Linked DNA regions of Homo sapiens: regions 1 and 2 are each linked to region 3. Evidence: fine-mapped expression QTL. A gene starts in region 3. Each other region holds a variant in brackets. All regions are shown on one strand. Distances are from middle to middle.

The links. PIP is the estimated chance that this variant, and not a neighbour inherited with it, causes the effect.
Region 1: its variant is the best candidate, but not a certain one, in a credible set for the expression of MAML3 in whole blood (TOPMed, PIP 0.68).
Region 2: its variant is the best candidate, but not a certain one, in a credible set for the expression of MAML3 in monocytes (TOPMed, PIP 0.57).

What each region holds. Positions count from the first base shown.
Region 1 is chr4:139,721,763-139,727,044 of GRCh38, reverse strand. It overlaps MAML3 (mastermind like transcriptional coactivator 3), which reads left to right. Exons shown (of 5, transcript NM_018717.5): 4 at 1,210-1,294. It also overlaps a transcript of MGST2 not described here. Among named protein-coding and RNA genes, the nearest start is that of MGST2, 59 kb to the right of the region's middle. The variant C/G (reference allele first, on the strand shown) is at 2,926.
Region 2 is chr4:139,870,022-139,875,303 of GRCh38, reverse strand. All of the region lies in intron 2 of MAML3 (mastermind like transcriptional coactivator 3), which reads left to right. Among named protein-coding and RNA genes, the nearest start is that of MGST2, 210 kb to the right of the region's middle. RefSeq lists an enhancer at 1-122. The variant T/C (reference allele first, on the strand shown) is at 2,391.
Region 3 is chr4:140,151,948-140,157,229 of GRCh38, reverse strand. MAML3 (mastermind like transcriptional coactivator 3) reads left to right here and starts at 3,046. Exons shown (of 5, transcript NM_018717.5): 1 at 3,046-4,370. The coding sequence starts at 3,903.

The DNA of each region.
Region 1 (5,282 bases), 430 kb after region 3:
CTAAAGAACAGGGACCTTGTTGTATATTCTTTATAGCCCTTGCAGATGAAAGGTGCTTAATGAATATTCAGCAGCTGCAGGGAGCAGGTTAAACAACATCCCCAAGGTCACGCAAGCTACTTGACGGCAGACCTAGAACTGAAACCTCTTTCTCTGCTCTTTCTACATCACTCTTATTTTCTTTCCCTTTGCACATACAGCATGATAATGATAATAGCCTTCCCAGCATATTGGTAGCAACACTAGCAGTGCAGCATCCCCGTGAGTGGAAGAAGAAAGACTAATATGCAGGCCTCCTGGTCTGCTGGTATATGTGGAATCCCACATGGTTTCCTCAAAGCAGTAAATGCTGAATAGTTTACATGTAGAGATGTATTTTACAGGCAGTGTGGCTTCATGGGAATAAGATTAGCCTTTTTTGTATAACTCCTGAGGATGTCATCTTCCTATGCCCAAAGCATCCACTTAGGTCATTAAAAAGCAGTTGCTTGTCCCTTTCAACTCAGTCCCCACAGCCTAAGGAAAGCATGCAGGCTGATGTTGGGCAGTCCATGTCAAAACCCCTTCCCTCAGCACGCATTCCTCATGAGCCAGCAAGTCCACACATCAGAAATACATACAGATGTTCACCAAAGGCATGTACAGGAATGTTCATAGCAGTCACATTTGAAACACAAAAACTAGAAACACCAAAGGTGACATCACTAGTAGAATGGGTAAATAAATTATGGTATATTCATATGATGGAATACTATCCAACAGTGAGAATGAACAAGCAACAAGAATTCACATCCACGTGGATGAATCTCACAAATACAGTGGTGAATGCAAGAAGCCAGACACAAAAGCAGCATCATGTGAATCCTTTTCTGCAAAGTACAAAAGCAGACATAACTGCTCTATGTTGTTAAAAGTTAGGACAGTGATGCCCATGGGTCAAGGGAGAGTGATGACTGGAAGGGGCACGAGGGGCTCCTGGCAGCGTTCTGTTTCTTGATGTGGGGGCTGGTGGCCCTGAGTGTGTTCGTTTTGTGAAAACCTACCTGACTCTATCCTTAGACTTTGTGCACTTGCCTGTATGCATATGATTCTTCAACACAAAGTTTAGTTTTGGGGAAAACACTACCTTCCTCGGAACTGCTGGGATATTGAATTGTGTGCTTGCTCCCTATCTCACCTCTCCACCCCTCTTGTGTTCTGTTGTTCTAGCAGTTGCAGCAATCACATCTACCCCGGCAGCACCTCCAGCCACAGCGGAATCCATACCCAGTGCAGCAGGTCAATCAGTTTCAAGGTGAGGCCAGTGCAACCTCTCTCATTTTATACCTTCCAGTGGTGAAGCGTAAGTGAATGTGTAGCCAGAGGCATTGCCTTACTGGCTGTATTTGTGTCCAGGAAATACTCAAAATATGTAACTACTGGTAGGTTAAGAGTACTAACCAATCAGAATGGATTCCTAGAGGCCTCCTGTTGTGCCAGGCATTAACCTTTTGGTCACTGAGTCACAGAGAGGTTCTAGAAGGCACAGGGAAGGGTCAGGGTAGCTGTCGGAGTTGGGACTAGAACAGCTGTTCTTTACCAAAGGTACATAGTATTGTAATAGTTTAACAACCAGTAAAGATATACTGGTGCCTGTTGGCTGCATATCAATTTTGTTTATGTTTAGATCGTCATCTTAGTGACTACAGGGGCAAAAATCTTGTGCCACATCTTTTTTGCTTATCCCAGCAGGTCACCTGACCAAAGCCCTTACCTCTAAAGCTGAAGTGGAAGAATCTGGCTTGCAACAACCACTAGTCTCTTTTGAATGTAGAAGACAAATAGGGCCTTGAGGCTGATTGAACTGATCCTGTAGCCGTTTGCGGGAATCCTAAATCATGACCTAGTAGCAGTGGGCGCACTGTATGTCAGTGTTGGCACTCCTTTATAAATGTGGAAGGCCCGTTCAAATATCAAACCCTTCCATCTCTAATAGAGAGAGCCCTTGGCCGGGTGCGGTGGCTCACGCCTATAATCCTAGCACTTTGGGAGGCTGAGGTGGACGGATCACTTGAGGCCAGGAGTTCAAGACCAGCCTGGCCAACATAGCAAAACCCTGTCTCTCTAAAAATGCAAAAAATTAGCCAGGAGTGGTGATGCATACCTGTAATCTCAGTTACTTAGGAGGTTGAGGCACAAGAATCGCTTGAACCCGGGAGGTGGAGGTTGCAGTGAGCTACTCCAGCCTGGGCAACAGAGCGAGACTCTGTCTCAAAAAAAAAAAAAAAAAGACCCTTGAGGGTCTTATATGGGGTGAAGAAAATAGCCTGAGGAGCCTTCCTAATCTTATCCACAGGAGTTTTCAGGGGGCTACAGGGGTCACCTAGCAGCAGAAATCCTAATCCCATCCTCTGCCCATTTTGTGGGATCTAGATCAATGTGTCCTAGCTTCTCAAAAGTTACCTATTCCTTTAAGTGTCTGCAAAAAGCTATGAAGCCTCTTGCAGAGAAACATATAATATGTAAATATATACAAACTTTTATATAATTTCACAAGTATCCCTGAACTTTATCAATAGACTGGGTGAAAATTTTCTGATCTAAGGTAGCATTTTTAACTTCTCAGATTGCAACACACAAGGTTATTGGAAACAACTTAGTGGGTCACAACCAACATTTTCAAAATGAAATACAACAGAAATTACCAGAGCATATCAGAAACTTTTCTTTCTGTTTTAAACCCACATGTATATATCCTAGATCATGAACTGTGAGCTGTAGTTTACAGTCTGAAAGCCATTGATATTTACTGACAGATCACATTGAAGATCACCTGTAAAAATACTGGGTCTTGAGTAGCTACCACTCCCTTCCACCTCTGGAATGCTTATATCACATTAGATCCTTTGGCCTTGACACAGGGAAGGACAAAAGGAATTGAGTTAT[C/G]CACAGGTGTTCTGTGCACTAAATCAGTGCCAGTGGTTTTTGAAGAATTATGTTTCTAATTTTGCCATGGGTAGCTTCGGAAGAGTGGGGACTAGTCATCATTACATAGTTGTTGTTGCAGATACAGAGCCCTCCTTTGTATCTGTAGTTCTCAAACTTTAGCCTGCACTGAAAGCACCAGCGGAGCTTGTTAAAACATACACAGTGTTTCTGATTCAGTAAATCTGAAGCGGGGCTTGAGAATCTGCATTTTTTACAAGTTCCCAGGAGTCACTGATTTTGCTAGCTAGGGAACCACGCTTGAGAGCTGCTGCATTATATTATGAACTAATTAAAAACATAAAAGCTGATAAACCCAGCATAATGTCTCTTGAGTTTTCCAGGTTCATAACTCATGTATTATTTGTGGGGGAAAAGGGGAATTATTTAATAATTCCCCTGTGTTACAGAACATAGACACATATGAGCTATTCTGAATGTTTTGGGTCCAGTTAAAAACTTCTATTCCAGGCAGGTGCAGTTGCTCACTCCTGTAATCCCAGCACGTTGGGAGGCCGAGGCGGGCAGTTCACCTGAGGTCGGGAGTTCGAGACCAGCCTGACCAACATGGAGAAACCCCGTCTCTACTAAAAATACAAAAAATTAGCCAGGCATAGTGGCGCATGCCTGTAATCCCAGCTACTCCGGAGGCTGGGGCAGGAGAATTGCTTGAACTCAGGAGGCAGAGGTTGTGGTGAGCCAAGATCGTGCCATTGCACTCCAGCCTGGGCAACAAGAGCAAAACTGTGTCCCAGAAAAAAGAAACAAAAAAAACCAGAGACAAAAATTAAAGTCACCTGAAATCCCACCATCCAGAGATGATCAATCCTATTCTTTTGTTTCTATATAAATAGACACCCACAAAAATTGGGATTGTACTGTACATGGGTTTTTGAAGCTGACTTTTCCACTTAACAGATCCTGATGTAATTCTTGTTTATACTTCAGAAGCAAATTATTTCGCACTCATATAGATATGATATCATCCTCAACCAATAAGATACTATTTTCTTTGGAGGTGAGAGAGAATTCACCTTTGGGGCTAAATTAGAAAGAAATGGCTGATCACTTTGCATTTTCTATTCGTGACGTGGAACACGGTTCAGTAGAGAATACTATCAGTAAAGCCAGTGTGACATTTTAGGGTCCTTGAACTGATTGGTTTGAGATATATAATTTGTTTTACTATCTTCAGTATTTTCATGTGTTTACAGACACCCTAGATAGCATGATGTTATGCATCTGGGAAAATAGCAAACTGAAAAATAAGAAATATCATTCTTGGAGAGAAGTTTTGTTAGGTATAACTTGCATGAGAACCTATCCCATACTCTCACCATTATACATTTCAAAGGTCTTAATGACTGTCTTTCCCTCATTAGGTTCTGGATCTCTGGGCAATGTTACATGACTATGGGGAAATACTTATTTTTTTCACAAATACAGGCTTCTTGTGAGTGAAAATAGAACATAGACTTTTTTAGGAAAAAGTTGGATACTATCATCTGTATTTGAATATACAAGATTTTCTTGGACATTGTGATGTTAACCAGCAGACAAGAAAATTAGATTACAGTGTCTCACAATAATATCTGCTTTAGACCAAAAAAAGAAAAAGAAAACATAATCTGTTGTTTAACACATGTAGTAATCATGTAAAGACAAGTTAATTCCTTGGACACATCTGAATTTTTTTCCTTTGTATATTTAAAATCACGGAAGGCATAAAACTAGATTAATAAAAGTCCTTTTATTTCCCTTAGGTGAAAAAGAATGTGGCAATTGCTGATTTTAAAATGCCTTTTAAAAATAAGAATTACATCAAGATAGTGCAGTCATTTACACTAAATAAAAAATAAAGGTTGGCTTGGATTAATGTATCACTGCCTATTAAAAAGCATTGTAACGCTTCTGCCCTCTAAAGAAAGGAACCTATTTCTCATTCACAAAATTATTCCAGACAGTATCTAGTCCTTTACCATATCCATTATAAATATACCCCAAAATGGCCAAATTATAGATGTCCTTTCATCTATTTCTAGCAGCCCATCAGACTGTTTATATAATTTGGGTCTATCCAATCAATCTCTGACTCAGCAATATTTTTCCCTTAAACTTTTTTTATAAACAACTCAATAACCCATTTCACCACAGTTGATCTTATTGGCCATGCAGCCGATAAAAATTTAGTCGTTAAGGTCACAAAACTGCATGACAATATTACAAGTTGCAGTATATACTACCTTCCAGTGTTTTACTAGGAACTTTCGATTTTTCAAAAAATCACTTAGATATAATGAAGCTTAAAAAAATATATG
Region 2 (5,282 bases), 280 kb after region 3:
TGCCTAGGTATGACATCAGGTAGGATCATATAAGGAGCTGCCTTCGTAGGGAGGGTGGCAGAGTGTAGAGGTCGGGAGTCAGCTCTGAAGCCACAACAGATCTTCAAATCCTGACTTTACCACTTCAGAACTTGCAGGACCTTGGGCGGGTTATATAACCTGTTTGTACTTTAGGTTTTCATCTAGAAGATGGGGATGATCAGCTGGGCATGATGGCTCACGCCTGTAATCCCAGCACTTTGGGAGGCCGAGGTGGGCAGATCACGAGGTCAGGAGATTGAGACCATCCTGGCTAACATGGTGAAACCCCATCTTTACTAAAAATACAAAAAATTAGCCGGGCGTGGTGGCAGACGCCTGTAATTCCAGCTACTCGGGAGGCTGTGGCAGGAGAATGGCGTGAACCCAGGAGGAGGAGCTTGCAGTGAGCTGAGATCGCGCCACTGCACTCCAGCCTGGGCGACAGGGCAAGACTCCATCTCAAAAAAAAAAAAAAAAGGAAAGATAGGGGATGATAATCAATAGAGATATTAGGATGACTCTGTGTATTAGTTTACGTTAAGCATTTAAAATAGTATCAGACCCATAGGATGTACTGTGTTTTTAAAATTAAAAACATTAATCATATCGTGTGATTTGTACTTTTTTAATCCTCTAGGAGAGTGTAAGTTTCTTCAGTTTTCCTTTAAGCCAGTTTCATTCATTCATTCATTCATTCAACATATTTTATGTGCCTGTGGTGTCTAGGCATTGTGCATACAAAGATAGAAAGATTCTGGAAGAAATATATTATCATATATATGTGAAAATTTTATAGACAGGGACTGTAAACAAAATGGTAAAAGTGTATTACTGTTCTCTTTTAAAAGCCAACTGTTAGCAAGTTTCACTGGTGATTTTTTTAAAAAAAATCAATCTTGGCTCTGACAAGATTGTTCCTCCTGCATAATTTACCTCTATTTAAAATAAAAACTATTTATTTTTCATATTTTAAAGTACAATATTAAAATGCCATCTTTTTTGTTTATGTTAAATGATTTTAAATGAGGAAAACATCTCAAGACATAATCTAGCCACTCCCCACTCCTAACTCTAGAGGTCTGTTAGACTCTTTGAGGCCTTACAGTACCCTCATTGTTTCTGGTACCTCAGTAGATGAGAAAAATCATTTCTCTTTGTTAAAATCAGAAGCTAAAAAAGAAGGTGGGATTTAATTTACCTGAACATTTTATAACATCTGATCCATTTACATATTAAATGCAGGTAAACACATATTCCAAAATAATGAAAAGACCTTTTAATAAAACTTAAAAACTTAACTCCAAAGTAAAGAAGAGCTCTATTGGAAAGATTACCATATTAGTTATCTATTGCTGTGTAACAACTTATGCTCAAAACATAGCCACTTCAAACAACAAACATTTATTATCTTACATGGTTTTCAAGGGAATGCAGGAGCAGCTTAGCTGGGTGGTTATGGCTCAGGCTCTTCCATAAGGCTACCGTGAAGCTGTCAAGTGGGCTGCAGTCATCTGAAGGCTTGACTGGGGCTGGAGACTCTACTTCATATGTGGCTCCCTCCCATGGCTGCTGACTGGAGGCCTCAGTTCCTCACCACATGGACCTCCCCACAGGGCTGCTTAAGTTTTCTCATGACATGGCAGCTGGCTTCCCCTGAGTCAGCTTCAAGAGAGACCAAGGAGGAAGCCACAGTTCATTTCATGACATACTATCGAAATCACACACCTTCGTTTCTTCATTGTTTCATTCATTAGAAGCAAAATAATTTAAGTCCAGCCACACTCCAGGAGAGAGGGATTAGGTTCTCCCTTCTGAAGGGAGTGTCAAGAATTTGTGAACATATTTGTGGACACCATAATGACCATGAATGGCTTTGGCATTTTATAACATGCTTAAGTGGTACTGGCTCAGGAAAGCTTAGGATGGGAAGAACTGAGCTGGCAAAGGTGAGCAGCTCCATTTTTGAGGATACATAGATCAGATGTGCTGGAGTGAGAGGAGGGATGAAATCATAGGCTCCAAACATACCAGAAATTTCTTTTCTTTCACTTAGCAGTCCTGGACCTGATATCAAAGCTGTGCCACATAGCAGAGAAGCAATACAACATTCTGTGGTCAAATGTGAAGCCTTGCTTTTATTTAAAGTAGGAAACAAAATATCTGCGTGATTATTTATTTATTTATTTATTTATTTATTTTTTGAGATGGAGTCTCACTCTGTCTCCCAGGCTGGAGTGCAGTGGCACAATCTCAGCTCACTGCAACGTCTACCTTCTGGGTTCAAGCAATTCTTCCTGCCTCAGTCTCCTGAGTAGCTGGGATTACAGGCGCCCACCACCATGCCCGGCTAATTTTTTTAATATTTTTAG[T/C]ATAGACGGGGTGTTGCCATGTTGGCCAGACTGGTCTCAAACTCCTGACCTTAGGTGATCTACCCACCTCAGCCTCCCAAAGTGCTGGGATTACAGGCATGAACCACTGTGCCCGGCCGTGTGATTATTTTTTTAACTCTAAACCCAACCTTGTTATTGATAGGATTTTTATTTCTGCCTTAAGAATTCTTTCCATCACCTTTTCATTTTAAGACACTTATCATTTCTATCCCTTCCTTTGTCCCCTGTGCTGTCCTTCCTTCTGAAGTTCTCACCCGGAAAGGCATTACATCTTTGATGCTGCAGTTCACTTCTGTGTGCACCCCTGAGTTCTTCCAGTACATCCTCCAGTTCCTCTGCTTTCCATTTCACAACCTGGTTACAGTTAGTCACACTGTAACTTCCTGTTACTGAGTATTTCAGGGGCCAAAGCTCTCTATGCCCTATGCTGTCCACTTAGTCATCTCTCTCCACATTTGTATTATTCACAGCAAGATGCATGCACACAAATCCTTTAAGTCCGTCAGGCTTTTCTTTCCATTTCCCATTCAAATATGAATCACCTAGCAACATTTATTGAAGACCAATTGCACATGAAGCTGTGTTCCCATTATTGTGAGCCTCACAAAGGAAGTAAAAGCCATGGTCCTTGCCATTAAGAAGTTTATCCTCTACTAAAAGCTGGATTAAAAAATTTTTTTTAAAATAATAACAGCATACAGATTCCCGTTTATATTCAATAGAGTGAAATGTTGTCCAAGTTACAATGATCAAATGCAAGGGTTATTTCTCTGTATACCTTTTAACTGAGAAAGCTAGCCATCTTTTGGATTAGGTAAATGCATGTGCCTTGATGAGAAATACTGCTACAAAAAATTAGTGCCTGCTGTTCACTTCCTAGTATTGTAAACACGTTTCACCCAATCTGGTGAAATTTCAAGGCATGTTTTTGAAACTAAAATAAATAAATAAAACATTTATTAATCCTCTGTAACAAAGATACACCCAATTAATGTAACAAGTAGTTACAACCGATAACTGAAGCATAAGCAAAAGGATAATTGTATTAGTGTCCTAGGGTTTTCTTCTTTTTAAAAAGACGTCAGCACTGTGCATTGTTTTACCTTATTTTTAATGGACTGTTGATCAGAAAGGGGAGTAGGGAAACTGGGTTGCGAAGGGTTAATAAGGAACAAAAAGTGCAACCTGAGGAAGACACAGCTCAGGGAGGAGGACCCAGGGGAGTGTGGAAGCCCCTCAAAGCTCATTAGAGAGATTCAGCTTGTGATACAAGAAGCAATGGGTAGTCATTGTAGGTTTCTGAAAAGAGGAGAGTACTATCTCGATCAAAGTGATTGGCAGGAGAGATGCTAGGAAACAGCATACCTGGAACAAAATAATTAGGACCTGACTGCGTGTGACCCTGGAAATAGGTCCAAAGAAAAAGCAAGAGATTGTGGAAGTGACTGTGGGCAGGGGTGGGGACAGGAAAGGAAGAAAGGCGTCAAATTTGACTTCCAAACCTCCATACTTAAAAAAAACTGAGGATGGCCATTGGTTCCTGGCAAAGTGAGAGCTGAATTGACCAAAAGTTGTTTACTCTAATTGGCTTAATTGTCATTTGTACATGTAATGAAAGTTATTTTTCTGTGGAGAAATAAAGGAGTAACAGTGTGAATTTGGGGCTTATCTAGGTGGTAGGTAAAGAAAGACATATGAGTCGAACCACTTCTTGAGGAATGTCATACATGAGAAAAAATGTATAGTCTAGCATCAAGTCTGGAGATAGCTAGAACTAATGACCATGAAAAAATGATATACCATGAAAAAATGATAAGCACACAAGAAATAAAATGTGTGTATTGTGTGACTGCATGTATATTTGTGTATGTACACACAAACATGCATTCCAAAAACATCTGAAAACCCACTCATCATCATGTTAGCCCTAGGTAGTTCTAACTAATGGAAACACAACTGATACTTCTTTTCCTTTCTTTCTTTTTTTGCTTATCTGAATTTCCTCATTTTTCCTGTTGAATGTATATTGCTTGTATAAGTTTCTTCATAGTGAGAAATTGTTTTAAATCTTTGGTGAAATGAAAGATATAGATACAAAAATTAGTCAAGTGTGGTCCCAGCTACTTAGGAGGCTGAGGTGGAAGGATCTCTTGAGTCCAGGAGGTCGAGGGTACAGTTAGCTGTGATTGCGCCACTGAACTCCAGCCTGGGCGACAGAGTGAGACCCTGTCCAAAAAAAGAAAGAGGTAGGAATAGAGTTTTCAAGGTCAGAATTTAGAACAGAGGGAGCCTTGAAATAAGGCTCAAGATGAGGAAACGAAGACCCTGATAGTTATGGGATTTATTGCTAGGCTTTCAAAAGAAGAGTATGCATTTTCTAATGCTTAAAAAGCAATTTTTCATTTCAAGGCTTAAAAATATTAATAAATACATCAAAAGAAGAATGGAGTTATTCTCATCTGCTAGAACTTGGATTGATCTAAAGCAGTGGTTCTCAACCTCAGATGTTTTGTTCCCCAATCACCAACTGGACATTTGGCAACATCTGGAGATAGTTTTGGTTGTCACAACTTGGGGGCCAGGGGTAGGGTGGGGTGAGGGGAACGGGGAATTGACGCTGCTACTGGCACCTAGTGGGTAAGAGAGCAGAGATGCTGCTAAATATCCTACAATGTACAGGACAGTCTCTGCACAACAAAGCATTATCTAGCCCAAAATGTCGATAGTACAGAAGCTGAGAAACTCTGATCCACAGTAAGGTACATATTCACAGTGACCATTCATGGAGCGCTTTATGTGCCAAGACCTGTACTAAGCCCTTGACATGAAACATTTAATCTTCAAACGATCTTGAAATTCAGACATGTAAAG
Region 3 (5,282 bases):
TTTCTCTATGACTTTCAAGGAGTTCTTTAGGAAGGTGACCAACAAAGCTGGAAACCTTGCAGGACCATATCATGGGATCTGGAAGTAGCCAGCATAAAGGTCTCTGTTTCTTCTAAGGTCACTGGAGTAGATCAACATCTCTAATTCAGGGTGACTGGCATATGTTGCTCAAGATGCAAGCCTTGCTTGCTTCTTGCTTCTTTCTTCTAATCTTCCTGCACAATGAGAATGGGGTTTCTGACCTCTGGTACGTCACAGCAGAGTCCTGCACAGGTCGGTTTCTCAAAGATTCTTCCCCTCTGGCCATCACACAGTTTCACAGTTCTTCCTTTCCCCACATCTGGGGCATGGAGCTTGTGGCTGCCACTCCCATTTTGGAGAGATGAAAGACGGGTGCCTGTGTGTGCGCTTGTTTGTGTGTACACATGTAACAGTTTTTCTTTTGGGTATAGCCCATTCATGCACTAAAATCAGGCAGCAAAGTATACTGTGGTTGTGCAAGAAGAGCTTCATTTGTCATTGGGGAACTCTGTGGTAAAACCACAAAGTGTGCTGTCCCACCTGCTGGTTCCCCAAAGGGAAGGATGCAAATTCTTGTGTCTTTTTGGTTTCCCTTCATGGTAGGAGAGGTAAACAGCTTGAAGGGAATACATGGTGCTGCTATTGTTGTCATTTTTTCCCCAGAATGAGAAACTCTCAATGAATAATTAAATTCTGAGTCACAGGAAAAAGCTAAAATGAGAACCCAAGTCTCAAAAACTAAAGACCCAGTGCTTAAGACCCTCAAATTTGTTGCCTCTGTAAATCAAACTGCAGTCTTTTGTGGGTGATGGAGGCAAGTGAAGGAGGAGGGATAACAATTAAACTACAGTGTGGCCAGGCGCAGTGGCTCACACCTGTAATCCCAGCACTTTGGGAGGCCAAGGCAGGTGGATCATCTGAGGTCAGTAGTTTCAGACCAGCCTGGCCAACATGGTGAAACCCCGTCTCTACTAAAAATACAAAAATTAGCCAGGTGTGGTGGCGTGCACCTGTAATCCCAGCTACCCAGGAGGCTCAGCCAGGAGAATCACTGGAACCCGGGAGGCAGAGGTTGCAGTGAGCCAAGATGGCGCCACTGCACTCCAGCCTAGGCAACAGAGCAAGACTCTGTCTCAAAAAAAAAAAAAAAAAAAAGAATTAAACTACGGTGAAGAGAGAGCAAAGCGAATGCAGAGTCATAGCTTCCCCTCTGTGGCGAAGCCATGTGTTTCCTGAGTTAATAGAGATATTATTTAGTGAATATGTGAAAAAGATAAAGGCCACTTTGCTACCTCTTTTTCTAATTTCTTAAAATTCTCTACATATTTTCAGAATCTGAACGGGCTCTTTTGCTACAGACGTAGTCCAGTTAAATTTTCTGACTGAGACTTGAAGAAGGGCAGTTTGATACAGAAATTTGTATATTAACTAAATAGCCTTCAGAAAAAGTGTGGCAACTTCAATGAAATATACACTCTCTTAAGTTGGTTTTACTGCTTAGAAGTAGCCTCACACCGTATTAAATATTTTGCTGCCCATTTTGCCATATATCCAGTGAATATTAAAAATATCGTTCACTATATAGAACTGATTAATTGAAGAAAAATATAGCTTCTTATCGCTGACATTATGAGGTTAGAAATAGCATCCTGTGCTAATCTGCAATGCCAAGAAATGAAGATGGTTTAAATCAGATCTCATGACTAATGCATAAGATCCAAAGTTCTTTTATTCCTGGCTATTTTAGAAAACTGGGGTGTATTTTTACCCTAAAAACTAATTCTTAAGATTTATTGAAATAATACAAAATGACTTATAATTAACATCTCACAATCAAGATTTATAGTTTACTGATTATTAGAGAAATAATAATTTCTCCATCTTAATTTTTAAAAATATGTATATGCAATGGTTTAAGTCCATATTCAAGAATATTTGATCCTTAGTTGTTATTTTTGTTTTTAGATAATATCGGGAAAGATAATGTGCTTTAATAAAATGGAAAGTTTAGATTGATTTCTGCAGTTGCTAGTCCATTTTAATTGTACTTATTGTGAATTCATTGAAATGGAAAGAAATATATCCAGCAATAAAGTAGGCCTGTTATTTTTGCTTGTTTTTGTTTTGGTCATGACAAACTGTGAAATGCTGTGTTTTTTCTATAGTTCTAGTCTATGAAATCTGCAATCTTTCCACTTGATTTACGAAGGACCTTAATTACTGCTGTCATTAGCACCTAGTGTTCAAAACAGTCTGTTTAAATGTACTGTTAGTCTCACCTCCAAGTCCCTGCTTGCTTTATTTTTTTCCAAGGGTAAGTAAAACAATAATTGACTTAGTAACAACAATCATTATGTACAGTGAGTTAAATATTACACATTTTTGATGCCTATTTCTATTTATTTAGAATTTGGTATTTGTGTGTTCAGTCTGGCCTAGACTTGGAACAAGTGTCCGTAAGTAGCGCTGTTACTAGCGCAGACTTATTACCTGGGTTTTAAAAACAAGTCACTCATTTGCCTTTTTCTTTCCACATGGATAGGGATGACAGACAACTGCTGTAAAGCTTCAATGTTTCTGCCTGGTCATGCACAGTTCTGCAATATAATGCATAAATGTATAACAACAACTTGGGATCGCTTGATACTTTCCTTGGAATAAGGAAACCCTACCAGGCGCGTCCCCGCGCACGCGCGCGCGCATACACAGACACACACACTCACACACGCTCTCACGCACACACACAGGTCAAAAGTTGATTTATTTCTGAGATCCCCCCAGAATCTTTCTTCTCTCCGTCGCCGACGGCTCTGGGCTTCTCGGCGGGGCGGTAGTGTGGTTGGGGGCGTAGGAGGGGCGCCGGGCGCCGAGGCGACGGAGACGGGAGCCGGGTGCTGGTGCGTGCCGCGCCCGCTCCTGCCGGGTGAGAGTCCGGGCCGGGTTTTGCGCCGTGTCCGCGGGCCTGTCTCACGGCCTCCAGCCGCCGCCGCTGCCGTGTTTACTGAGCTCGCGCGTCCTGATATCACTCCGCTGGCATGGAGGAGGAGGAGGAGGTGGAGGAGCGAGAGGAGGAGGAGGAGGCGGCGGCGGCGGCGGCGGCGAGCAGTTGATCATTGTGATGGTGGCAGGAGCAGCGGCGGCAGCGGCAGCCCAGCCGAGCGTTAGGTGCTGCTCTCTGCGCGGCGTTTTGCAAAGGACTTCACCGATCTACTTTTGCAGTCGCCTCGGACTGTCCATGTGTTTACTTCCCCCAGCCCGAGGATTCGATATCTAGGTTCCTGTGAAATGCAACTGAGCAGCCAAAGTACTTTGAGAACACGGGGCGGCATAAACACCAAAACTTTTTTGTGGAAGGAAAATGCAATAAGCAAGCTTGCCGTTTTCCGATGCGGTGTGGAGTGAGTGTGTGTCGCGCGTGTCCGCACTGGAGGCATATGCTTGTGTGTGTACATGGGGTGTGTTTTTCGGTATGTAGGGAGAAAATGCTTGCCAACCACCGGAAATCTCCTGGAATTTATTAGAAAATAATGGATTATAAAAAGAAGGCAAGCAAGGAGCGGATCTCCCCTTGAGTTGCAACCCGATTTGCTGCTGGCTCAGTTTGTTGTGATTCTTTTTGTTGATAGGTGTCTGATGGTATTCCGATAACGTTCCCCCCTTTTCTTCCCCTTGAGCTTTTACAGTTTAAAAAAAGGAAACAAAAACCACCCCAAAATCTCCCCCCCCGTTTTTTTCGCCCCGTCGGGATCGCCGTTTCCATCCATGTGCTTGCGTCTCCCCCGCGTTCCACTTAAACTATTTTAATCCTTGGACCCAAGGAGGAGGCTGATAGGGGGGTGGATAAAAAAAGTTCTTCCAAAATAGTGTGCCCGGGGAGCAGGATGGGGGATTTCGCAGCCCCCGCTGCTGCCGCGAATGGCAGTAGTATTTGCATCAACAGTAGCCTGAACAGCAGCCTCGGCGGGGCCGGGATCGGTGTGAATAATACTCCCAATAGTACTCCCGCTGCTCCGAGTAGCAATCACCCGGCAGCCGGTGGATGCGGCGGCTCCGGGGGCCCCGGCGGCGGTTCGGCGGCCGTTCCCAAGCACAGCACCGTGGTGGAGCGGCTCCGCCAGCGCATCGAGGGCTGCCGTCGGCACCACGTCAACTGCGAGAACAGGTACCAGCAGGCTCAGGTGGAGCAGCTGGAGCTGGAGCGCCGGGACACCGTGAGCCTCTACCAGCGGACCCTGGAGCAGAGGGCCAAGAAATCGGGCGCCGGCACCGGCAAACAGCAGCACCCGAGCAAACCCCAGCAAGATGCGGAGGCTGCCTCGGCGGAGCAGAGGAACCACACGCTGATCATGGTGAGGGCGCACGGGCAGCGGGCTTGCGGCGCGCGTTGGGGGTGGTGGTGGTGGTGGGGGGCGCGTGGAGCTTCTTACATGGGGGTACAAGGGTCTGATTTGCACGGTGGGTGAGGTGGGCTGAAGCCTAAGGGTTAACGTCAACTTTTCTTAGGGAAAAAGCTGCCGTCGTCGCTACCTGTTAATCTGTCAGGGTTGTCAGATTTGGGGAGGAGGGGGCGAGAGGGGAGAAGCCAGTCACGACTGCGAGGGGCGGAGGGAGCCTAGAGGAGCGTCGGAGTGAGGTGCTGGAAAAGTTTCCCCCCTTCCCTTTCTTAAGATACCGATTTGAAAGAGTGAACCCCTGAGTTGAAACCTTGCTCCTCCTCTTCGCCGCTCCCCACCCCACCTCTAGCCGCGCCGCCTCGCCTCCCCAGACCCGTCCCCCTACGCCCACCCCTCTCAGCACATCCGCCGGGTGCGTGGAAATATTGATGCTGTCGCAGGTTCTGGGCGGGCACCAGGCCCTCAACCCCTAGGGGGGAAGCGGGGAAGGAGAGCCTCTCGCCTCCTCTCCCCAGCTCACCCCCTTTGGGCTGAGAAAGTCTGAGAGTTTTGTGAATGAACTTTGAAGTGGGTGAGAAACGAGCGAGGGTGGCTGCGCGCGGGGGTGCTCGCGGGAGCGCGCGCGGATGCGGGGCGCGGGTGCGCTCCGCTCTTTGCTCGCGACTCGGGGCTAGCCCGGCAGGTGGAGCGGCTGGGAGGGTTAAGAGGGGAGCGGCCTGGAGGGGGCGGGAGGGGAAAGCAATACCCAGGGTTTGCGCCAAGAGGCCCCACCACACAACTTCGCTTGGGATTCTTTCCTTTTTTCCTTTTAAACTTGCGTGCACGGAGTCTTTCTCCGCTTGGCGCCCCCTGCCCCGCTGCCCGCCA